Linked DNA regions of Homo sapiens. The protein of the gene in region 1 purifies or fractionates together with the protein of each later gene. This does not show direct contact. Each region holds a gene or a part of one and is shown in the gene's direction. Other genes may lie near its edges. The genes, in order: CPNE2, RNF138, TXLNG, SUPT5H, NEK3, EBF3 and NOC2L.

What was found.
Region 2: the proteins of CPNE2 (region 1) and RNF138 purify together in Homo sapiens (affinity purification with mass spectrometry; one large-scale study listed by BioGRID and IntAct). This does not show direct contact.
Region 3: the proteins of CPNE2 (region 1) and TXLNG purify together in Homo sapiens (affinity purification with mass spectrometry; 2 studies listed by BioGRID and IntAct, with this or other methods). This does not show direct contact.
Region 4: the proteins of CPNE2 (region 1) and SUPT5H purify together in Homo sapiens (co-immunoprecipitation; 2 studies listed by BioGRID and IntAct, with this or other methods). This does not show direct contact.
Region 5: the proteins of CPNE2 (region 1) and NEK3 purify together in Homo sapiens (affinity purification with mass spectrometry; 2 studies listed by BioGRID and IntAct, with this or other methods). This does not show direct contact.
Region 6: the proteins of CPNE2 (region 1) and EBF3 purify together in Homo sapiens (affinity purification with mass spectrometry; 2 studies listed by BioGRID and IntAct, with this or other methods). This does not show direct contact.
Region 7: the proteins of CPNE2 (region 1) and NOC2L purify together in Homo sapiens (affinity purification with mass spectrometry; 2 studies listed by BioGRID and IntAct, with this or other methods). This does not show direct contact.

The regions. Positions count from the first base shown.
Region 1 is NC_000016.10:57,113,083-57,116,582, forward strand, and holds part of CPNE2 (copine-2), read left to right. Parts: intron 1-205; coding exon 206-385; intron 386-2,393; coding exon 2,394-2,468; intron 2,469-3,500.
Region 2 is NC_000018.10:32,122,874-32,126,373, forward strand, and holds part of RNF138 (E3 ubiquitin-protein ligase RNF138), read left to right. Parts: intron 1-644; coding exon 645-701; intron 702-1,860; coding exon 1,861-1,972; intron 1,973-3,500. UniProt on the Homo sapiens protein: E3 ubiquitin-protein ligase involved in DNA damage response by promoting DNA resection and homologous recombination.
Region 3 is NC_000023.11:16,817,466-16,820,965, forward strand, and holds part of TXLNG (gamma-taxilin), read left to right. Parts: intron 1-1,108; coding exon 1,109-1,412; intron 1,413-2,698; coding exon 2,699-2,790; intron 2,791-3,500. UniProt on the Homo sapiens protein: May be involved in intracellular vesicle traffic. Inhibits ATF4-mediated transcription, possibly by dimerizing with ATF4 to form inactive dimers that cannot bind DNA. May be involved in regulating bone mass density through an ATF4-dependent pathway.
Region 4 is NC_000019.10:39,452,082-39,455,581, forward strand, and holds part of SUPT5H (transcription elongation factor SPT5), read left to right. Parts: intron 1-1,274; coding exon 1,275-1,440; intron 1,441-3,500. UniProt on the Homo sapiens protein: Component of the DRB sensitivity-inducing factor complex (DSIF complex), which regulates mRNA processing and transcription elongation by RNA polymerase II.
Region 5 is NC_000013.11:52,146,098-52,149,597, reverse strand, and holds part of NEK3 (serine/threonine-protein kinase Nek3), read left to right. Parts: intron 1-1,128; coding exon 1,129-1,183; intron 1,184-3,500.
Region 6 is NC_000010.11:129,835,275-129,838,774, reverse strand, and holds part of EBF3 (transcription factor COE3), read left to right. Parts: intron 1-814; coding exon 815-832; coding exon of another isoform or gene 833-846; 3' UTR 847-3,500. UniProt on the Homo sapiens protein: Transcriptional activator. Recognizes variations of the palindromic sequence 5'-ATTCCCNNGGGAATT-3'.
Region 7 is NC_000001.11:943,703-946,479, reverse strand, and holds the end of NOC2L (nucleolar complex protein 2 homolog), read left to right. Parts: coding exon 1-78; intron 79-193; coding exon 194-307; intron 308-826; coding exon 827-962; intron 963-1,333; coding exon 1,334-1,423; intron 1,424-1,679; coding exon 1,680-1,786; 3' UTR 1,787-2,277; downstream 2,278-2,777. Other genes in the region: SAMD11 (sterile alpha motif domain-containing protein 11), read right to left, coding at 2,327-2,572, 2,672-2,777.

The DNA.
Region 1 (3,500 bases):
CTGTCCAGCCCTGGGGAAGTCACTTAACCTCTCTGTGCTTCAGTGTCCTTGTCTGTGAGCTGGGGATAGTGAGTCACTGACGATGACCACAAGAGCCTGGCACAGAGTAGGCATTGTACAAGTTAGCAGAATGATTTCCAGCAGCCTGCGAGGTCTTGGACCAGCTGCCTTGACTCTGACTTCCATTTTCCTGCCCCTCTGCTAGTACGACAGGACAGAAACCGCGATCAACAACCTCAACCCCGCCTTCTCCAAGAAGTTCGTGCTTGACTACCACTTCGAGGAGGTACAGAAGCTCAAGTTCGCGCTCTTTGACCAGGACAAGTCCAGTATGCGGCTGGACGAGCATGACTTCCTGGGCCAGTTCTCCTGCAGCCTGGGCACGGTGAGCTGGGCCCTCCTGGGTGGGAGCAGGGGCCCAAAGACCGGGCAACCCCTCAAAAAGTCTCTTCTCGTGCTGTCTTTCCCTAGCCCCATCTTCCTGGGTGGGTCCCAAAGTGCAGATGCAGAGTGGGGAACAGTCTTGGCGGGTTCAAGGCCGGGCTGAAGAGCTCCCATCTGGAGAGGCAGCCAAACAGAATGCCTCTCAGGATCTGGGGCCCCAGGTGGCCAGGGATTCCGATTGTTAGATATAATCAGGTGTGGTCTTGACCTCTGGGGGTAGGAGCATCTGACCAGCAACCAAGACACCCACAGTAGTCCCGCTTTGTGGCAGACTCACTGTGTGACCTTGAGAAACTTCCTTTCCCTCTCTGGGCCACACTTCCCCATCCATCTCAGTCCTTGGTAAGCTCCTGGAGGCCGGGAGCAAGCGGGGCTAGGCGCCCCTGACACAAGTCTCAATCATTCCTTATGGCTGTATGCCCTTGGATAAGCTCCCATCCCCCTCTGGGCCTCAGTTTCCCCACATTTTCCTTGGGGATTATGATGACTGCTCTGCCCAGCCTACATGGTTGATAAGGGAATGAAATGGAAAATGCTTTGAGGGGTCCTAGTGGAGACTGAAATGCCCGGGGCCTTCCAGGAGATGGTGACCATGCAGAAAGCAAGGGACTGCCATGGTTGTGATGTCTACTTTTTGCGTAAGAAGCAGGGTACAGTAGTCAGGGTCCCTACCCTGTGGTATAACTGAGAAGAGAGCTTAAGGGCTTGTGGACAGGGCAGGGAACTGACAAGGGATGGGGAAACCAGTCCAGGGCTTGGCCCCAGAGGAAAGCTGACCACCTTCACCTGGAAGGAAGGCAGGGTGAGGAAGTGGCATTGCCAGGGCCTGGTAAGACCTGTGGCCCATAGAGGGAGGCCTCTGGACTGCAACTGAGGCAGAAGACAGAGTAATGGAGAAGCTCCCATCAAACGGGGGCCCCCACCTCTCACGCCACCTGCTCTCCCGTCTCCTGCCCATCCCCCCAACTGGCTGAACCTCTGAAAGCCAGAGGGCAAAAGAGCCAGGTGGCACAGTCCCCAGGGCACAGAGCAGGTGTGTGGATCTGCGGAGAAGAACTAGCCCCACAGGAGCAGGACTAGATCATACTGATGTGTGCTCCCCGCTGCACAGGACGACGCTCGCACTGCACCCAGGAAGCACGAACCATGCTGGCCCCTGAGTGCAGTGGGCAGACACAGGTGGGAGGGTGACTTTGCAATGTGGCCCACTTTTCCTCTCTATGTTGTTTTGATTATTGCACCCTGTGTAAGTGTATTACCTATTGAAACCAATAAAAATAGAAAGAATTGGCCGGGCTCTATAGCTCATGCCTGTAATCCCAGCACTTTGGGAGGCCAAGGCGGGAAGATCGCTTGAGCCTGGAGTTCGAGACCAGCCTGAGCAACATAATGAGCCCTTGTCTCTACCAAAAAAAAAAAAAAAAAAAAAAAAAAGCCAGGCGTGGTGATGCATGCCTGTAGTCCCAGCTACCCAGGAGGCTGAGGTGGGAGGATCGCTTGAGCCCAGGAGGTTGAGGCTGCAGTGAGCCGTGATCGAGACCTGTCTCAAAAGGAAAATACATAGAATCTGAGCTTGACTCTGTCCATCAGAGATCATATCCTGAGGCAGGTGGGGTCTGTGGAATGCCTCTGGAGGAGGGAGTTAGGGGGCTAACCTCCCACAGTTGTCTCCAAAATGCCTTTTCCTAGGGGCAAACCAGGCAGTGGGAGTCCAACTGCAGCGGGAGACCTCAGGCGGGTCTCTTACCCTCTCTGGGCCTCAGGCTCCTCACTGCCCAGATTGGCTGCTGTCCACCTCCCAGGGTGATGATGATGCTCAGGCGGGTCACCAGCCAGCCAGGGCGGGGTGCAGCCCTGCCAAGAGGATTTTTCCGGTGCCGGTGGAGGATTTTTCCTTCCCGGGCTTCCCCCGCTTCCTCACTGAGCGCCCTTTCTCCTCTCTCCCCTAGATCGTCTCCAGCAAGAAGATCACTAGGCCTCTGCTGCTGCTGAATGACAAGCCTGCGGGGAAGGGCTTGATTACGGTACCAGTCCCCTCCCGGCTCTCCGCACCCCCTCCATCCCCACCCCACACCCTCCCCCATCAATGGGCCGCTTCCCTGGCAGATAATCACCAGCTTTGTTTGGAGTAAAAAGGCCCAACTTACAACTTAGCAACAGGTCTCTTAGCAACCGGCTGCTGGCTCCACAAATGATGCAGTGGGGGCTGACAAGCTGGGGAGGCCTCCAGAGCCCTGCCAGCAGCCCCCTCCCTGCACTGGCCCCTGCCTGCCCTCCCCTGGGGGTCGTTCAGAAGTGCCCTGCCCATCAGTGCCCTGCTTGTGGCTGCGACGCGCAATGATTCCTGCAATGCGCAACGACTCCCGCGATGCGCAGTAATTCCGCTGGAGATGCACAGGCCCTTCGCCCGGATGAGCTCCTTGGTCTTCAAAGACTCCCAGAAGCCAGGGCCACCCCTGAGACCCAGAGAGGAAGTTCCCTGGGGCAGCTGAGCTAGCGAGATCGTCCCCTGGTTGTCTGGCTGGCTTCTGAGCCCACGCGATGCCTGGGAAGCCGGCCAGGCTGGAGGGAGAAGCCATGCCTTTGTGTGTTCCCGTGTGTTACTCCCCTGTCCTGGAACCTCACATGGCTCCCCACTGCCTGACCAACCCTTCGGTTCAAGGCTGTGAAGGACCCCTCAGACCCTGCCTGGCTCTCCTGCCTTGGTGTTTTTTTAATCTCCTTCACTTAAATGCCCTGCGTTCAAAGCAAACTGAATTCTTAGCATATCCTGAACATACCTCAGGCTCTTACTCTGTTCCTGCCCCCACGGATCACCACCTCCCAAACAACCTCCCCCAACCTCTTGGTTCCTAACTGGCCCATCTAAATGCCTTCCCAGGCCAGGTGCATGGCTTGCACCTGTAGCACTACTCCTTGGAAGGCTAAGGCAGGAGGATCCCTTAAGGCCAGGAGTTTGAGGCTGCAGTGGGTTATGATCATGCTACTGCCCTCCAGCCTGGGCAAGAGAGTGAAACCCCATCTCTGAATGAATGAATGAATGAATGCCTTCACAA
Region 2 (3,500 bases), on another chromosome or scaffold:
TCTGTAGCACACAGGTGACGGTCCCTGTATGGAATACTTACTCTTCCCTCAGGATTCCTCTGATATTCCATGTGACACATGACTCTCTGGCATATGGTAAAAGTGGAGATGTTAAGTTGTTCTGTATATTAAATGTTAGTGAAGCCTGGTTTCTTTCCTTTCTGGAAATAAAATACAAACATAATGAACATTTACATATTTTCTTAAATTACTGCACTTTGGAGGGCATAACCTTATACCATGTCCTAGTTTGAAGTAAAAAAGTTCACAAATTCTTGAGTCTACCGTAGCATTTAAAACCTTACTAGTCTAGGTAAAGGTAGAGGAATGGGATTTAAGGTAATTCTGCAAAATTCTCTATACTTCTGTAACTGTGCATAAGTTAATTTTAAAGAACATAAATAAGAATCTAGTAAGCAGTCAATTTATTTAAAAGTAATTAATATTGTAATTATTTCATAGTTCAGAACCATTTGAAGTTCAAATTTTGTTTTTTCAAGGACCCAATAGGAAAAAGGTGTATTGAAGTTCAGACTTTTAAAACAAATTCAGACTAGTCTTCTTCATTAATGGTTCAAGATAATGAACCTTTAGTGTGTTTTCATTACTTTGAGGTATTAACTTTTTCCCCTGTGCTTCTTAAGCAATAGGAGTGAAACATCCACATCTGATAACACAGAAACTTACCAAGAGAATACAAGGTAAGCTTTTGAAAAATCCTGCCACTTTAGCAAGTAATATTATATTTATCACTTATCAAATAGCTTTTTAAATTAAACTTTTTTTTTTTTTTTTTGAGACGGAGTCTCACTTTGTTTTCCCAGGCTGGAGTGCAGTGGTGCGATCTTGGCTCACTGCAACCTGCGCCTCTCAGGTTCAAGTGATTCTCCTGCCTCAGCCTCCCAAGTATCTGGTATTACAGGTGCCTGCCACCACGCCCGGCTAATTTTTGTATTTTTAGTAGAAACAGGGTTTCACCATGTTGGCCAGGCTGGTCTCGAACTCCTGACCTCAGATAATCCACCTGCCTTGGCCTCCCAAAGTGCTGGGATTACAGGCATGAGCCACTGCGCCTGGCCATAAATTAAACTTAAAAAAAAAAAAAAAATCAGTTACATCATTAGGCATAGTGTTTGAAGTTAGCAGTTTAGAAATAGAAAATGCAGTTACTGCTTTTAAGAATCACATTAGGTTAGAAGAGTTTAGTTATTCTCTTTCACTGTGGTCAGGTTTCTTCCACACACGATTCAGGTAAAGTTGTCTGTGTTGAACTGTCCCTTCCTGAAATTCAGAAGTATTAAAACTCAGTGATGCTTGATCCTCAGAATGTTTTCGAGTATTTCATTCTCATGATCAGTGCTTTTGTTTTTTCTTTTCCTTTGAATTTTGGATGTTGGATTCCTAGGGCCTGGTATTTATTAGAGATACGATATTGATGGAAGTCTTTTAGAAGTTTTAAGTTCCTAGATAAAAGGTTTGCAAAATGTGGAATACTACAGAATATTAAAAATTTTCAAGGGACATACAGTGACAGCTATTGGCATCAGAAAACAACTACAATTAAGTTTGGACCTAACTACATAATATATGGAGTCAGCTAGGTTTTTGTTTTTGTTTTTGTTTTGGCCTAGAGGTGCCATGAAAAAATTTATTGAGGACACTAAGAGTACTGTAAACTGAGATTGGGAACCTCTGTAATGCATCATTTCCTGAATACATATGTTCAAAATGAGAGAATCTTTGAATAGTCTAATAATTATAACTTTTTTAAAAAATGTATAGTGATTCCTCAAAAAATAGGAGAGCGTTATTTTTGTGTTATTCTGAATTAAGTATGTTTCACTTAAAATTGTTTTATAGTTCTTCTGGTCATCCTACTTTTAAGTGTCCCCTGTGTCAAGAATCAAATTTTACCAGACAGCGTTTACTGGATCACTGTAACAGTAATCACCTATTTCAGATAGTTCCTGTGGTAAGTACATACGTTTGAGACAGTCTTCTGCTTAGAATAAAACATGCTGTTCTATTTATTTCACTTCATGTATGCAAGAGAAAGTAGTTGATTTATATTTGGTTGGGGCATTATCAGTAAGGTAGATTTTTGTCAACAAAGGATTGATGACTGTGAAGCAAAATGAGATATTTAAAATTGCAGTAACTCTCATTATAAAAAGGGAGATGCATAGTGTGAGGTAATATAGCACAGTCTGGAGAAGAGTGAAGTAATGAAAGATGAACCGGGAACTCATTCCTGCGCAGTAGCACAACCTGTCTATTGAGGCCTCAGTTACTTGCTCTGTAGATGGCAGACAAGTAGATCTAGTCAGGTAGATTGCTGTAGGTGAAAATACCTGTAAGTAAGAATAAAGTCAGTAGGTATTTTTATTGTTTTCTTGCAGCATATAGTATGTGAATGCATAAAGCAAGGAAGGAAAAGACTTAGACTTTGTATTTGATGCCTACATATTTTTTGACATTTTGAGGGTATGTAAGAAAATGGTGAGAGCTTTTTGATAATGAGGGAGATAGAGCAGAATTCAGGATTCCAACATATAATGATCCTAGAAGTGTTTCATAGGTAAGTTATTTCAGCTGTGAATGGAACAGGAGAAACTGAGCTGGGAGAGAGATTTCCCTTTCAGCTGAACATTTTGATATATAAATAATTGTCTTCAGAAAGGAGAATAGGAAGGAAAATGTTATCAATAAGAACTGTAGATATTTCTAAGCTGTTTTAGTGAGTATGCTAGGAAAAGTTGTGAAAGAATGTGCTTCAGGACCGGGCACGGTGGCTCATGCCTGTAATTTAGCACTTTGGGAGGCCGAGAGGGGAGGATTGCTTGAGCCCAGGAGTTCGAGACTAGCCTGGGCAACATAGTGAGACCCTGTCTATTTAAAAATAAAGAAAATAAAAAGAATATGCTTCAATAACCATTGAGGATGACCTTAAGCTCTCACATACCACCTAAGAAGGTGTACTACCTACTTTGCTTATTAGAATGGGTTCAGTTATGCTTAAATAGACAAATACAGTGCCAAAGATGTTCCAGGAAATCTCGCTCATATTTAAGATTTTACTTAGTTTTATATTGGATTACCAAATTTTTATTCATTTCTGCATAATATTCGATATATCATAAACTTTGGCTAGAGTTTAATTACTGAAGGTTTTTTGTGTGTTATTTCAGTTATTTATCCATTCAGTTTTTAAGATGTACTTCATTTAAACGTAAGGATATGGCTGGGTGTGGTGGCACATGCCTTTAATCCCAGCACTTTGGGAGGCCAAGGCGGGAGGATTGCTTGAGCTCAGGAATTTGAGACCCAGCCTGGACAACAGTGAGACTGTGTCTCTAGTTTTAAGAAAAGAAAAGAAAAACTAAGGATACAATTTAAAGTAAATTTTCCAGTTTACTTCATTTTTATTTTACTTACAAATGAAATAAAACTAATAATAATTATATGGTTATTGTATGGATCAAATGAGATAATATATTGGA
Region 3 (3,500 bases), on another chromosome or scaffold:
ATGATTATAACCTAAAATCTCAAATATCTGCTCTCCCATAAATTTTGAAAGTAGCTTTTGTCCATTTGTGATAAGAGAAGGATACTAAACACCTCCTCACCTCAACAGTATTATTCAGAAAAGGAAGAGGCCCTCTTTCATACAGAGAGTAAATGCACAGAATTTAAATTTGTGCCACATCATGACCAGGAAGTGTTCACAAGGGGAAAAAACTCAAATAGGGTTAACAATGTGATAGAAGACAGTTACTGACATAAGAATAACATACTGGAATAAAGGCATCTTTACCATGTGTATTAGGGCAGGGATAGCTGCTTAAAATATCAGTCTCAAAATTTCCATGGCTTAGCATGAGAGAAGTTTATTTCTTGTTCACCTATAGTCCAGTGTAGGTTTTCTTTGTAAGTAGGGTGGCTTTCCTGTATGTACATAGGATATGGAGGCCTAGGCTTCATTAATCCTGTGGCTCTGCCATCCCTTAGGGTCTTGGAGATGTCTGCATTTTGCCAGAGTCGGGGAGAGATGGTTGAGAAAGAACTTGTGCTTCTAAGAATAAAAGTCTTGGACAGTCGTGTCCTATGCCCACATTCAGTTGGTGGGAACTTCACGTGGAAGTCGCCCCTTGGTGTAAGGGGGCTGGGGAATAGTCCCTGGCTGGGCACTTGTCTCATAGTGCCAACTCCACAGGAACTTGGGGGAGCATGGGGTTTTGATGGATAGCTAGCTAGCCATCCCTGCTGTACTGTCTCCTTGAGGATAAGATTAGAATAATTAATATTCATTAACTGGGGACAGTTTCACTTCTGTTAAGGTGCTAATTATGTTAAGTGGTGAATTTTTATGTGGAAATCAATTTAGATTTATAACTAAATGGGTTTCTTGCCTCCTTTGGTACTGAATAGTTGTGTGATTCATTTTAACTAATTTCCTTATACTTTATAGTTAGGTCACCTCTCAGTGAAACCTAGAAAGTACCATATTTACATCAATTTTGCAAACCACTAAGGAAGAAAAAACTATCAGGCTATGATGTTCCATTGCTTGTAAACATTGATTACATTAGATTTAACCCCTTCTCCATCTTTTTTCTCCTTCTCCTTTCTTCTAGTTTGAAATTGGCACAATGGAAGAAGCTGGAATTTGTGGGCTAGGGGTGAAAGCAGATATGTTGTGTAACTCTCAATCAAATGATATTCTTCAACATCAAGGCTCAAATTGTGGTGGCACAAGTAACAAGCATTCATTGGAAGAGGATGAAGGCAGTGACTTTATAACAGAGAACAGGAATTTGGTGAGCCCAGCATACTGCACGCAAGAATCAAGAGAGGAAATCCCTGGGGGAGAAGCTCGAACAGATCCCCCTGATGGTCAGCAAGATTCAGAGTGCAACAGGAACAAAGAAAAAACTTTAGGTAATAATCCGTTCAGTGGTTGGACGTTTCACATGCTAATCATTTTACTTGTGTTTTCTGCAGCCCAGATAATTTTGAACACAGCCACTTTAGAGGTGCTTAGCCAACACCCCTAGTGTCTTCGGTGAGGTCAGTCCATGTGTCTGCTGCAGTTATGTGCAGGAGGCGAAAACAGCAGAGAGGACGCTTAGTTTTTTTTTTTTCCAAATAATCAAGAATTGGCTAATTAAAAAATTTTTTTTGTAGAGACAGGTTCTCACTGTGTTGCCCAGGCTGGTCTCAAACTCCTAAGCTCAAGCAGTCCTCTCCTGCCTCGGCCTCCCAAAGTGCTGAGATTTCAGGTGTGAGCCACTGTGCCCGGCCACATTGCAGTTATTTCTGATCATTTTCAGTAATTGTGTTTAATCGTCTCTTAAAGGTCTTATTGGCCTTGGGTTAAATGAGAGAAGATTTCATTAATAAAATTTTATGTGAGTAGAAAAGCATTCTTTTTTGAAGTCACCCTTTTTCCCCCATAGCAGTCTGTATGTCAGAGTTATTTTGAGATATATATTTTGATGCAATATCTTACATATAAGAATGAACATTAAAAAAATAAAAATGGTACCTATCACCTAGCTTAAGAAATAAAAGATTACCCCTTACTTCGAAATGCCATTAGTCCCCTCCTAATCTCAGCCACCTGCCTCTCTCTGCCAAAGTCCTTACAGTATTGCTAAGGTCTTTCCCCACAGGAAGAGCTATCTTGTCATCCTTTGGTTAGTTAACCTTAGTTAACACACAGAATATACTTAGTAAATCATAAGAAAAGCACACGTTTTTAAATTGTTCGTAGGAAAAGATATGTTCTCCTGTGATTATGTGTGTCTTTGGCAAAGTGTAGTACCAACTGAAACTCCCTTTGAACTTGCTTCTATATTCGAACTTGGTTAGGAGGAAGCTTTAAAAAAAATTCCATGCCCTTTGTAACTTGCCCTTTGTCTTAACTTGGACATCAGTGATTAGGCAAGGAAATTTATAAGCTTTTAACAAGAGTTCTTATAAATAGCTCGCAGTGTTAGTGAATGAGTTAAGAAATTTGGGGTGGGTATGGGGAGGGGAGCGAGGCCTGCTAATCCAGAATTTAAAAATTGCCTTTTTCATTGAGCTGGTAAATCTCTTATTTATAATCATAGGTGTAAATTAGTTTACTCTGGATGTCAGAGCACGGGAATTGTTAGTAGAATTTACAGGTTAGATTTGATCTCATTCTTCTGGGACTTATTTCTTTTCTTGTTAACCATCAGGAAAAGAAGTTTTATTACTGATGCAAGCCCTAAACACCCTTTCAACCCCAGAGGAGAAGCTGGCAGCTCTCTGTAAGAAATATGCTGATCTTGTGAGTATTAAGCCAAGGATGTGAGAGCCATATAAAATATAACAAAATGTGTGTGTGCTTGATAAGTTTCTTAAAGTACAAATTTGATATGGCCTTAAATGTAAAATTATATTTTATTCTGAAATTGAAGAAGAGAATCTGTTTTGTTGGGGCTTTTTATTGGTTGTATAGTTTCATTTTATGAGGTAATATATAGGGAACATTGTAATACTAAGATGTGGCATAGATTTTCTAAAACTCAGTTTTAGAGTCTAAGTCAGCCTTTCCATTGCTATGTTGTGATGCCTTAGGTGCCACTCAGTTGGGGTGTAGTGGTTCCTGTCTTAAACTTTTCCTAAGGGAATTCTAGAGATTGAGGACTGTTTTGATTGAGATTGTGAGTTACATGAAATCATCTGCTAAAACAATACTTTGTCTCAGAAATACTTCTTTAGCATCTACTATGTGTCAAGCATCCTTTTTTCCATTTTCTAGAAACAGTGACCTTATCAAAGAGTTTGTTCTCAGCTATATTATTTTATTTTATTTTTTTGAGACGGAGTCTCGCCTGTGGTCCAGGCTAGAGTGCAGTGGTGTGATCTCAGCAGACTGCAAGCTCCACCTCCCGGGTTCACGCCATTCTCCTGCCTCAACCTCCTGAGTAGCTGGGACTACATGTGCTCGCCACCACGCCTGGCTAGTTTTTTTAATTTTTTAGTAGAGATGGGGTT
Region 4 (3,500 bases), on another chromosome or scaffold:
GGGTTGGAGAAATGATGTTTACAGGCAGAAAGGATGAGGATTTGGTGCCTGTCGGTAATTGGAGGAGGCCATCACAGGTCTAGGGGAAGACACTGAGGTCAGTTTGGGACACAGTGAGTATGAAAGGGCTCAGAGGCCATCTAGGGGAGGCATCCAGGATGCTGCTGGTGCATGGAGGTCTTGAGTTCTGGAAAAAAGTGGGACTCTATAGACAGATGAGGACACGTGTCATCTCTAGAGACAGGAACTGAGGTCATGGAAAGTAAAATGGACAGGGAGAGAGGGCATGGAGGGAGAACAAAGTGGCCCTGGACTGAGCCCTGGTAATTGATGTCAGATTTGAAGGGGTTAACAGTAAGAGGAGCTTGAAGAGGAGCTGGTGGAGTTTTGAGAAAAACCAGGAGAGCATGATACGGCAGAAGCCAAGAGAGGAGCATTTCTCCAGGGAGGGCATGGTTGGGGTGCCAGATGCTGCTGGGATGGTAGGGAATACAGAATGGCCACAGAATTAGCAACAGGGGTGGCCAGTGATCTTCGTGAGCAGTGTGGACTAGAAACAGAGATGGGAGTCACTGTCACAGAGATGTCCACCACCGCCAAGGGAGAGGACGAGATGGCCTTGGGGAGTTGTAGAATGGGAAGAGATGGGCCAGGTGCTGTGGCTCACACCTGTAATCCCAGCATTTTCGGAGGCAGAGGCGGATGGATCACCTGAGGTCAAGAGTTCGAGACCAGCCTGGCCAACATGGTGAAGCCACGTGTCTACTAAAAAAATACAAAAATTAGCCAGGTGTGGTGGCGCACACCTGTAATCTCAGCTACTCAGGAGGCTGAGGCAAGAGAATTGCTTGAACCCAGGAGGTGGAGGTTGCAGTGAGCCAAGATTCTGCCATGGCACTCTAGCCTGGGAGACAGAGTGGGACTCTGTCTCAAAAAAAAAAAAAAAAAGAGAGAGAAAGAAATGAGGCCCAAGGACCAAGCTTCATCAAGCTATTATAGTTAAAGACTCGGTGGAAAGTGAGCAAGAGGTCTAGTGCAGGGAGAAGCCCGGGTCAACTCCCAGGGTTGCTTGGGTGGCTGGGGAGATGGCAGTGCTGTCGCTGAGATAGGATGGTAACCAGAGAGGCCAGGCTAGAGTGAAAGGGATATATGCAGAGCAAAGTGGGCTATGATTGGCCAGGCCAATCTGAGGTCAGATTTAGGGTGAGGAACTTGGTTTTTGGATTTTTGGGGTAGCAGAATTCTGGTGCTACAACCCTGCCTGACCCCTGTAGGTAGACGAAGAGCGGCGGAGTGCAGCGGGCAGTGAGAAAGAAGAAGAGCCTGAGGACGAAGAGGAGGAGGAAGAGGAGGAGGAATACGATGAGGAAGAGGAGGAAGAAGATGATGACCGACCCCCCAAGAAACCCCGCCATGGAGGCTTCATTCTGGACGAGGCTGGTATGTCATAGTGCTTGGCCAGTGCCGAGCAGAGGCTGAGCTTCTACTTTTAGTTCCATTTCTTTTTCTTTTTTTGAGGCGGAGTCTCGCTCTGTCGCCCAGGCTGGAGTGCAGTAGCATGAACTTGGCTCACTGCAAGTTCATGCCATTCTCCTGCCTCAGCCTCCTGAATAGCTGGGACTACAGGCGCCCGCCACCACGCCCGGCTAATTTTTTCTATTTTTTAGTGGAGACGGGGTTTCACCTTGTTAGCCAGGGTGGTCTCAATCTCCTGACCTCGTGATCTGCCCGCCTTGGCCTCCCAAAATGCTGGGATTACAGGCGTGAAGGACCAAAGTTCTTAACTTTTCTCGTGCTACGGCCCCTTCTGTAGTCTGGTGAAACCCTGTTCCCTTCTCAGAATCATCTTCTGAAATGCATAAAACAAAATACATAGGATTCCAAAGAGGACAATTTATTGAAGTACAGTTATCAGAATATTTAAAAAGAACATTTTGGTGCATATGTTTCTTTGTTAACATATTTAGGTAATAAGACTTTGTAGGTAGTCTGAGAATCTAATTTTCAAGTAGCAGTGAGTGTAAATGCTGCCTTGAGATACCTATAGCTGTAATGTGCTGTGAAAGAGCCAGTGACACAGCTAACATTGTGTGGTTTGTTGCCATTGTATGTAATTGATGTAAATGCTAAATTTCAATTCCAGGTTACTGAAAATAGGAGCTGTAGTTTTTTCATCGAACACAGACCACCCCAGATGAAAAATCTCTGTTCTACGTGTTAAATCCCTGTTAGTCAAATTGCTAGGTAAAGGTGGTGCATTTTGTTGTTGTCGTTGTTTTTTTTTTTTTTTTTGAGACGGAGTCTCGCTCAGGCTGGAGTGCAGTGGTGCGATGGCTCACTGCAACCTCTCCCTCCTGGGTTCAACTGTTTCTCCTGCCTCAGCCTCCTGAGTAGCTGGGACTACGGGCACGTGCCACCATGCCTGGCTAATTTTTTATATTTTTAGTAGAGACAGGGTTTCACTGTGTTAGGATGGTCTCGAACTCCTGACCTTGTGATCCGCCCGCCCTGGCCTCCCAAAGTGCTGAGATTACGGGCGTGAGCCACCATGCCTGGCCGCACTTTTTTTAAAAAAAGATTTTTTATATTTACGGCCAAATATCAGTTCCTAAAAAGATAAGACTAGTTCATACTTCCATGATGATAATGAATGTGCATGTTTTCCCTTACCTATGGGAAGAGGGGTTACTTAGAACACATCCTGCCTCTGTTTTCCTGGGACTGTTTTACCTGAGAAGAAAAGTAGTTTATTGTCAAAGGGACAGGAGGTGCTCTGGATGTTCTTGGAGAGCAAGAGAATGGATACCATGCTGGGTAAAAGCTGTGGGTTCCCAGGGACACCCATATGTTGGTGGTGGAAGTGTTGGTGGGCACTGCCTGTGTGGAAGGCTGTGTGGCAGTGCCTGTTAGCATTTAACATGCAGGAACCCTTTGACCAAGCAGTTCCTCTTTAGAATTTACTTTATGGTTAAACTTGCATGAGTGCATGAAGACCTGAGAACAAAGATGCTTGTTGTAGTCCTGTTCGCAGTTGCAAAAGTTTGGTGACCTAAATGTTTATTGATGATTAGGGCCTGGTTAAACAAATTATGGGCCATATAGTATATGAGGCATGTGCTGCTGTGGGAGAGCTCTGAGTTAGTAGTAGTTTTGAGAAAAAGAAAGGTACAGAACGGTGTGTTAAAAAAATTACGTGGGGGCTGGGCGTGGTGGCTCATGCTTGTAATCCCAGCACTTTAGGAGGCTGAGGCGGGTGGATCATCTGAGGTTAGGAGTTCGAGACCAGCCTGGCCAAGATGGCGAAACCCTGTCTCTACTAAAAATACAAAAATTAGCTGGGCGTGGTGGCGGGCGCCTGTAATCCCAGCTACTTGGGAGGCTGAGGCAGGAGAATTGCTTGAACCCGGGAGGTGGAGGTTGCAGTGAGCCGAGATTGCTGCACTCTAGCTTGGGTGACAGAGCAAGACTCGGTCTAAACAAAAAAAATTACATGGGGGGAA
Region 5 (3,500 bases), on another chromosome or scaffold:
ATGCCCGGCGGGCAACCTTTTTTCAGGAGATTCAGATAGATATAGAGGAGGGAGATTAGCACGCAAACATGGCCAATGAGAATGATTGGGGGACCTAGATAAGGGCATGTGGACATTGCAACTTTTCTGTAGATTTGAAATTTAAAAAAACTAAACGGGGAAATAGTTGGTAAAAACCATTAATTAAAATAAAAAAGAATATCATTTAGAAAAGTCTGGAGGAGCTGGGCCTGGTGGTGTGTGCTTGTAGTCCCAACTACCTGGGAGGCTGAGGCAGGAGGATTGCTTGAGCCCAGGAGTTCAAGGCAGCAGTACAGTGACATCATGCCTGTGAATAGCCACTGCACTCCAGCCTAGGCAACACAGTGAGACCCCATCCCTTAAAAAAAAGAAAAGGTGGGCTGGGCGCGGTGGCTCACACCTGTAATCCCAGCACTTTGGGAGGCTGAGGCGCGCGGATCACGAGGTCAGGAGATTGAGACCATCCTGGCTAACACGGTGAAACCCTGTCTCTACTAAAACAAATACAAAAAAAAAAATTAGCTGGGCGTGGTGGCGGGCGCCTGTAGTCCCAGCTACTCTGGAGGCTGAGGCAGGAGAATGGTGTGAATCCGGGAGGCAGAGCTTGCAGTGAGCCGAGATTGTGAGGCTGCACTACAGCCTGGGCAACAGAGCAAGACTCCATCTCAAAGAAAAGGAAGAACCCTATCCCTTAGAGCCATCCAGCAGACTGTGTGGGAAGTAGAGAGCTGCCAGCAGGAGATGTGATCAAAGGCTGGGTGCTGTGTCCAGGGTGGTCGGAATAGAAACTACACTGGATGCCTTCCAGAGTCCTTCTTCCAGCTGTGATCATCTGAGTCCGCAAATATTCCCTCTTGCTACTGAATTCCCAAATGCTACTGAAGTGATATCTCAACTGCCCCAATTTGAAGGGGGTGGGGATTGAAAAGCAGAGAGTTTTATTGTGAACACTACTCTTAGGAAGTATCTAGGTGTTAGACCAACATTATATGTTTTAATACCTAGGAATTACTTGTGATATCTATTCTTATTAAAGGTAAGAAATTATTTTTTGTACTAGAAAATACGTAACCTGCTTGTGATTACATTGCTTCTTTATGCTTTCAGTGACATCTGGTCCTTGGGTTGCATCCTGTATGAACTCTGTACCCTTAAGCATCCAGTAAGTATGGCGTGCAAAATGGAAAAGGCAGCTTGTCATATCTAGCTGAGCCCTAATAATGTGACAGATTCTAGTTGGCAGTTTGCTTCCCTAGGATGAAGTCATTATAAAAGTTTGTATATGTTTCCAGTGCAGTCATCTGCCCTGAGTTAGTTTTGTAGCATATACTAATAGGAAATTTCCATTATTCAGTTTGGCTGTGCAATACATAACCTTTCTCTCTCTTTCTTTCTCTTTTCCTCTTTTCTTTCTTTTTGCTATTCTTAATTTTTTATTTTGATAAAATAAATATAAAATTTGCCATTTTATCCATTTTTAAGTATACAATTCATTGTCATTAATTACATTCAAAATATTGTGCAACCACCACTATTATCTCTTTGGGGGTTTTTTGTTTTGTTTTGTTTTGTTTCGTTTTTGAGATGGAATCTTGCTCTGTTGCCCAGTCTGGAGTGCAGTGGTGCAATCTCAGCTCACTGCAACCTCCGCCTCCTGGGTTCAAGTGATTCTCCTGCCTCAGCCTCCCAAGTAGCTGGGACTACAGGTGCATACCACCATGCCCAGCTAAATTTTTTTTGTATTTTTACTAGAGACATTTTTTTTGTATTTTTTTGTATTTTCCCCCATGTTGAGCAGGCTGGTCTTGAACTCCTGACCTCAGGTGATCCACTCGCCTCGGCCTCCCAAAGTGCTGGGATTACAGGCATGAGCCACTATGCCCGGCCACTACTATCTCTTTGTAAAACTTTTGTCATCACCCCAACCAGAAACTCTGTACCCATTAAATAGTTGCTCCCCATTTCTTCCCTTTCCCCAGTCCCAATCTAATTTCTGCCTCATGAATTTGCATATTCTAGGTATTTCATACAACTGGAATTATAGAACTTTTGCCCTTTTGTGTCTGGTTTATTTCACTAGCACAGTGTTTTCAAGGTTCATCCATGTTGTAGCATCTATCAGGATTCCATTCCTTTTTATGGCTGCATAGTATTCCATTGTGTGTATAGACATGTTTATCCATTCATCTGTTGAGGGACACTTGGGTCGTTTCTGTCTTTTGGCTATTGTATATAATGCTGTTATGAACAAATGGTGTACAAGTATCTGTTAGAGTCCTTGATTCCAAATTTTGAGGTTTACATTTAGCAGTGGAACTGCTGGGTCATATGGTAATTGTATTTAGCTTTTTGAGGAAACAGCAAACTTTGCAAGAGTGGCCGCGTCATTTTTTTCCTCAGCTTTTTGCAGTTAGATTTCACTTATATGAGTTTCCTCTCTAACTGAAACATCATGAAAACATAGACTTTGCCCTATAATGTGTTTTTTCAAGATATTTTTAAAAATATGAACAAAAAAAGGTTAAATAACTTGTCCCGCTTGTTCAGCCATTGTTTATTATATAGAACAACAACTGCAGGGCCAATTCCTATTAGTTCTTAGCTTTGCATAGAAATAAATTCTGTTCTTTGGGCACAGGCTGAAGGTTAGCTTTTTTACAGATGTACTTGAGGGCACATAGAGCTCAGGAGAGGGTGAATGGTTGAGAAACAATCTTCACCACTACCAGATGAAAGTAGCTCAAACTGAAGACACCTGGTATTAATGAGAGGTTATCTTCCTTGAATATAAGTGGTTTATAATGATAGCTACACAGTTAGAACAACTTGGGGAACCTTTAAAATGCTGATGCCTAGGCCCACAGCACAGTGATTGAATTAAAATCTCTGAAAATGTCCTGGGCATTAATGTTTTTAAAACAGGTGATTACAATGTACAGCCCAAGTTGAGAACCACCATAGTCTACAAATAAAATTATTTTTAAAATTCCAACATCTTACAATTCTTTACTTCCTGATGTATCTTTTTCATAATTTACATGTATACGTTCTTCTTTTTTCCAGCAAGAATGAGTATTAAGGACTATAGTGCCCTGAATATTTGGCATGAGATCTGTCATCCCTTGTCTGCTCGAAGACAAAAGTTGTTCTCAAACCTTTAGGAAACACAGATAGTTGGTGTAATGGTTAAAAAGCCAGAGGCAAAGCAGATTCAGTAGTATTTGTCATTATCACAATCTGTCCTTTGTTATGTGTTGATTTTTCTTTTTCATATATTCACTTACATTTTATATTCATAGGACAATACACTTTTTAAAAAATAAACTTCTTTTAAATTTTAAAACAGTTTTAGATTTACAGAAAAATTACAAAGATAATACAAAAAGCTTCTATATACCCCACACTGTAATTAACATCTATCATAGCCTTGAGGTGTAGAATCATTTCTTAAGCAAGATTCGACAAGCAGAAATTATTAA
Region 6 (3,500 bases), on another chromosome or scaffold:
GAACAAATGTATTAATATGTTATACATAAATTAATGAGAACGATCATTCTGACAAAAATTAAACAACACCAGCGGTAAAAGATTTTAAATTACATTCGTACCAGGAGTTCATGTGAAAGCGTCAGCCCCACTTGGCGTTTTCGTGCAAAGTTTTCTCTTCTTTCCTGAGAAGAGAAAAAAGGTCCCGAGGCGGTGCCATGACTCACGTCTCTCCGTGGCCCTTGCCTGGAGGTTCCAGGGCAGGTGGGCTGTGAGTGGCTTTGATTCTGGAGAGCCCCTGACTCACCATTACGATACAGAGAGATGACCGCACGGTCAGAGCCCAGACCTGGAAGCAGAGGGGGAAACTGAGGCCAGTCTGGTTCTCACATAGGGAGCGAGAGCAGGGCCTGTGAGCCGGCCTTGACTGGCGTCACGGGAGTGACCAGGCTGGGTCACCTCTCTCGACAGAGGGGGCTCCGGGCCTCCGTTGGCTTTGCACCTGTTGGCAGTGCACCGGTCAGTGTGGGGAAGCTGCAGCCTCTGCACACAGCAGTGCCAGGAGCCCTTCCCTTTTCCAAAAGAAGCCTTTAAAGAAGCCTTTGAGGAGGGCTGCAGGAGGGGCAGGACTGGGGGTTGTTGTCCCCACGTGTGCCCCCACCTCAGGAAGCAGATTCCCCAGCACGCCCTAACCACGCCCGAGGCTGGTGGACGGAACTGTGCAAGACCAGCCTCCCAGTTGAATAGGGGGGAAGGGCAGCCCCGCCCGCGTCAGCGTTGGCGGGAGGGCGCGTGGGGGAGCCTGCAGTAACTGCTCTGTCCTTCTGTCTTGCAGCTATGTCTGGGCTGGTAGTCCCGCCAATGTGAGGGACTTCTGTTTACCTTCCGCAGCACCCAGCATCAAAGGACGGACTTCAGGGGACACGTTTAGTATATTAAGACATGCTGATGGAAACAGTATCTTCAAAAAAATCAGCAGCAATTGAAATGCTACAAAAGACTTTGTTTAAAGATTTTATTTAAACTATTAAGAATCAACATGCAAACAGCCTACTTCTTCATGAACAATTCCATTTTATTGACTGAACTTTTCTCATATTTTCACATTTCTCAGTCCTGAAGAATAAGGAAAACAAAGCGACGCCTATTTTGTATAAAGTTTCCGACTCCGTCTTGGCCATGTCTAGTAATTGCTATGTGTTGGGAGAAACTTTGTGAATGCACCATTTTGATGATCATGAAACGCTGATGAAAAATGCCTCCAAACATTTTTCTGTACTCATACTTAGATTCACAATGGTTGTGTATCTCTATAATGTGAAATATTTTTTTGTGGTGATAAAAAGAGGGCCAAGGAGGTATGAGCCATCAGACTGGAAAAAAGGATGACTATATGATGAGGAGAAACTGGGGTGGCAGGGAGGGAGGGAGGGTTTATCACTGCTTAACTTCATCTTCATGAAATGAAACTTTGTAACTTATTGTAGTTAGAAATTGTAACTTTGATATTGAATTCTCTTGCCTTCAACAAGCACACTGACAGAGAAAAAATGCTACTGTCTGTTGGTTCCAATATTCTCCCACTGCTAGAGCTTCCTGTTAAGCAAGTGTGATCTGCAACATTTTTTCAACTTTTGCTAGCACTGTATACTATTGCATTCTTAGGCTACTGTGAGGTCTATGTTTCTTGTACCAGAAATTGTCCTTTTGACTTCTAGATCCTTCTTCCCTAATGTGTTTTGTATGTGGTTATAAAATTGTAGACTTTTGTGATTTTGCCAAAGTTGTAGCTAAATATTTATACACTTGTCTTGAATTTTTTTCAGATCCACTTAAAATATTTAGAAAAACAAGTTTTATTCCTTATGTGTCTTATAAGGAATAAAATGGTCTTCATTTGACACTTACTTTCCCATGAACACTTGCAGTTGCTAAGGGACTTTATTTTGTAACATATCAATTATAAATATTGTATTTATCTTTGAAATTTTGTACATTGCTTTTCCCACCTTTTCCTTTTTCTTCTTTCTTGTCTGTATTGGTTTTTGATCACGGCCTGGTGTTGTGATACTGGGAAGAGCATTAGCCAAGAACTTGTCTCTTTGATCTGTTTCGTTAAGCTGAACCAGTGTCTTTACATTTCATTTGTACTTCAAAAAATATGCTATTGTTTAGACTTTCCATCCTTTTTTTTTTTATTTTGAGGAAAAGTCAAATTCATTGTTTATTTTTATATTATTTTTAAGTTATCTGAACAAATACTTTTGAAAAAAAAGTTTGTTGTATAGTCAAAACAAATCGGTGCCACCCGGCCGTGACAAATCCTAGTAGATTCTGTGCATGTGGAGCGGCCGCGAAGAGGTGACACCGTTTGGGGCTGTGTCCTTATTTTATTTTATTTTTTTGTAGAATGTAAAAAGTCATTTTAGATGCCACCCATTGACTTTGCCACATAGCTGAACTGTGTTTACTGGAAAAATTCAGAGGCCTAAAGTTTAAAATAAAATTTACTTCTGATGTTTTAATTAAAATGTTTGCCACATTAACTTTTCTGATGCCTTAAAAGTGAACTTCTTTAAAGAACCTTTGTGCTATTTTATCACAGGCTTACACTACAATTGTTAATAAATACTTCATTTGGAGATGTATGGTGTAAAACACACAAACACACACAAAAAAGCACAAGCCCGCTGCATGACCCGTCTCTCCTTTCTGGGACTATTTCTGCTGCGTCCTGCACCCTCCTGGGCCCACCTCCGATTCACAGAGGTTTCAGGGGGACCCAAATCACTGCTGGTTTTCAATTTTTTTTTAACAATACATTTTTGTGGTCAGTTCCAACAGCACTGTCCGTACTTTTAAAACTGGAATGACCTCCTTCAGATATCGTGCCTCTTAGTGCCAAACCCACAGTGAGACCAAAAGTGTCAGGTGTTTTTTTTTTTTTCTTTCTCCTTTGCACTAAGTGCTTTGCAGACACGGCACAGCAAACATTTTGCAAACTGCAGCAGAAATCGAATTTAAAACAAAAAGGAGGGACTTTAAAATACCTTCTTGACAAAAATCAACAATGCACAACTTACAAAGTGTTCATTCTAGGGACAAAATTAAATAAACAGAATGTCCCCAGGAGTCAGCAGGTCACAGTCTGGCTTTGTGATGGTTGACAAGGTCTAGCTACATGGGAAAGCCTGAGAAGTCACTTTGGAACTAAATTGCCTCCATTTTATTTTGTACGAGTAAGGGTTTGATCTACAAAAGAGCTCACATGGACGCACTGAGAACGCCTGCCAGCTTCCCCATGCCCTCACTTGGTTTGTGTTTTAGGTTAAGTAGTCAATGCCCACATCACTTCACTGTCTCAAGACTGAGCACTTCACTAAATGGTAGATTTTACTGTTAAAGACCCTACAATAAGATTGTTTTATCTGTACATTTTTTCAGATATTTAACTGTATAAAAATGTTCATTTTACACAATATTTAATTAAAGTATTTCTTGTCTGTGAATTTCACTTTTGG
Region 7 (2,777 bases), on another chromosome or scaffold:
AAGGTTCAGGAGAACTCGGCATACATCTGCAGCCGCCGCCAGAGGGTTTCCTTCGGCGTCTCTGAGCAGCAGGCAGTGGTTAGTGGGCCCTGGGGGTAGTGCCACCTGAGGGCACCTGCCAGGGTATAGCCCCAGCTACATGTGGGGGTTTGCCCAGGGTGAGGCATGACCCTGAACTCCCCCAACCCCCCAGGAAGCCTGGGAGAAGCTGACCCGGGAAGAGGGGACACCCCTGACCTTGTACTACAGCCACTGGCGCAAGCTGCGTGACCGGGAGATCCAGCTGGAGATCAGTGGCAAAGAGCGGGTGCGGCTCGGCGAGGGGACCTGGGGGTGTGTTGTGACTTCCTGGGTTTCAGATCTAGCGCACTATGACTTGAGACCAGGGCGAGGGTTTGGAAACAGTGCCAGGCGGCCAGGGCCGTGCCCGGATGATTCGACTTGGAGAGGGGGTAGGTGTTGGAGAACTGGCCAGAACCAGGCGTTTCCAGGGAGGGGAAGCCCCAGGCTGCACTAGGTTGGGGAGGCCATGCCCCCTCAGGCCTGATGGGCTGGAGGCTCCGGGCAGGTGGAGTGGCTGGACTGACCTCGTCACCCAGGCCAGTATGTGGGCACCAGGGGCCCGTGAGGAGAAGCAGGAAGGGCTCTGCCTTTGACCTTGGACATGGGATGGACAACTTGGAGGATGGCTTTGTGATTTGGGAACAGAGGGGACTAGAAATTGGCCACATGGGGCCCTGGTGGTGGGTCTGGCGATGCCTGGCCCTGCTGTGGCCGCCAGCCCCTGCCCTCTCTCACCTGAGCCCCTGGTTCTTTGGCCTTCCAGCTGGAAGACCTGAACTTCCCTGAGATCAAACGAAGGAAGATGGCTGACAGGAAGGATGAGGACAGGAAGCAATTTAAAGACCTCTTTGACCTGAACAGCTCTGAAGAGGACGACACCGAGGGATTCTCGGAGAGAGGTGGGGCCTGCGTGGTGCTCCCAGGGGAAGGGTGGGCCTGGAGGGCTCTGCTGGACTTCCCAGAGCCACGAGGGCCACCTGTACCCATCCTGCAGGGGGCTCACCAGTCTCTGGCCCAGCTGGGGCCAACCTCAGTGTTGCCAGGCTTCTGGTGCCAGCGCCTTCCCTCCTTGAAGTGAAGGCCTACTGGGATTGGTAACTCTGTCCCCAGGCCTGTGACCTCCCAGTTCCTCCCCAGGGCTCCTCTCCACCTGCTGGAAGTCAGCGGAGGGAAGGGTGTTGGGAGCCTGGCCACCCTCCTGCCCCCACTGTGACTTTGCTGGTGGACCCTGTGGGTGGGAGTCATATGGACTCTGCTTCTTGTTCCTCAGGGATACTGAGGCCCCTGAGCACTCGGCATGGGGTGGAAGACGATGAAGAGGACGAGGAGGAGGGCGAGGAGGACAGCAGCAACTCGGAGGGTGAATGGTCTTGGGGTGAGAGGGTGTGGCCCTGTGAGCCCATCTGGCGGGAGGGCAGAGCCACGTGGGCGGGGGGCGTGGGGCTCTGGGCCAGGCTTTTCCCTCCCTGGGAAGGCCAGGCCAAATGCTCTGTTCTCTGGCAGCCAGCAACAGGGATAAATTAATTAGTGCCGTGATTAATTAGTGATGAGTAACCTCTAAGGCTGGCTTCTTCCTGATAAAGCAAAATTTATGTAGCCTCCATCTCTCCCCGCAGATGGAGACCCAGACGCAGAGGCGGGGCTGGCCCCTGGGGAGCTGCAGCAGCTGGCCCAGGGGCCGGAGGACGAGCTGGAGGATCTGCAGCTCTCAGAGGACGACTGAGGCAGCCCATCTGGGGGGCCTGTAGGGGCTGCCGGGCTGGTGGCCAGTGTTTCCACCTCCCTGGCAGTCAGGCCTAGAGGCTGGCGTCTGTGCAGTTGGGGGAGGCAGTAGACACGGGACAGGCTTTATTATTTATTTTTCAGCATGAAAGACCAAACGTATCGAGAGCTGGGCTGGGCTGGGCTGGTGTGGCTGCTGAAGCCCCACAGCTGTGGGCTGCTGAAGTCAGCTCCGCGGGGGAGCTGACCCTGACGTCAGCAGACCGAGACCAGTCCCAGTTCCAGGGGGAGGCCTGCAGGCCCCTGGCCCCTTCCACCACCTCTGCCCTCCGTCTGCAGACCTCGTCCATCTGCACCAGGCTCTGCCTTCACTCCCCCAAGTCTTTGAAAATTTGTTCCTTTCCTTTGAAGTCACATTTTCTTTTAAAATTTTTTGTTTTGCATCCGAAACCGAAAGAAATAAAGCGGTGGGAGGCAGGGCCATTGTGTTGAGTGGTGGCTCCTGGAGATTTGTGTGGCCCCACCCCTACCCCCGGCAACCTCAACACAGAGGCTGGGAAGGGTCGGGGGCCCCTGGAAGTAGAGCCAAGGTCCCATTCTCCTGCTTGGGTGAAGTTTGACCGGCAAGGGCGTGGCCCCCTCCATAGGGGGACGTGGCCGTCGTGGGGGACAAGGGCTGCTCTCCTGTGCCGAGTTCTCGCTCCGGGGCCCGCAGGGTTGGTGGCTGCAGTGGCAGAGCCACGGGGAAGCTGGCCACGTAGAAAACTCGGCCCAGGCGCCTGGCCACCTGCAGAGAGATGGCCTGGTGGGGGCTGTCGCACACCCACCCAGAGCTTTCTGCCCAGCTGTGGTCTGGAGACCCTGACCTCACTCCCCAGCGTCTCACCTGGGCCCGGATCTTGAGGGCGGGCCCCAGCTTCAGCCCCATGTTGGTCAGCAGGTGCTCCTCCGTCAGCAGTGGCAGGGTCTCCCCGTCGATCCCCTGCTCCCTG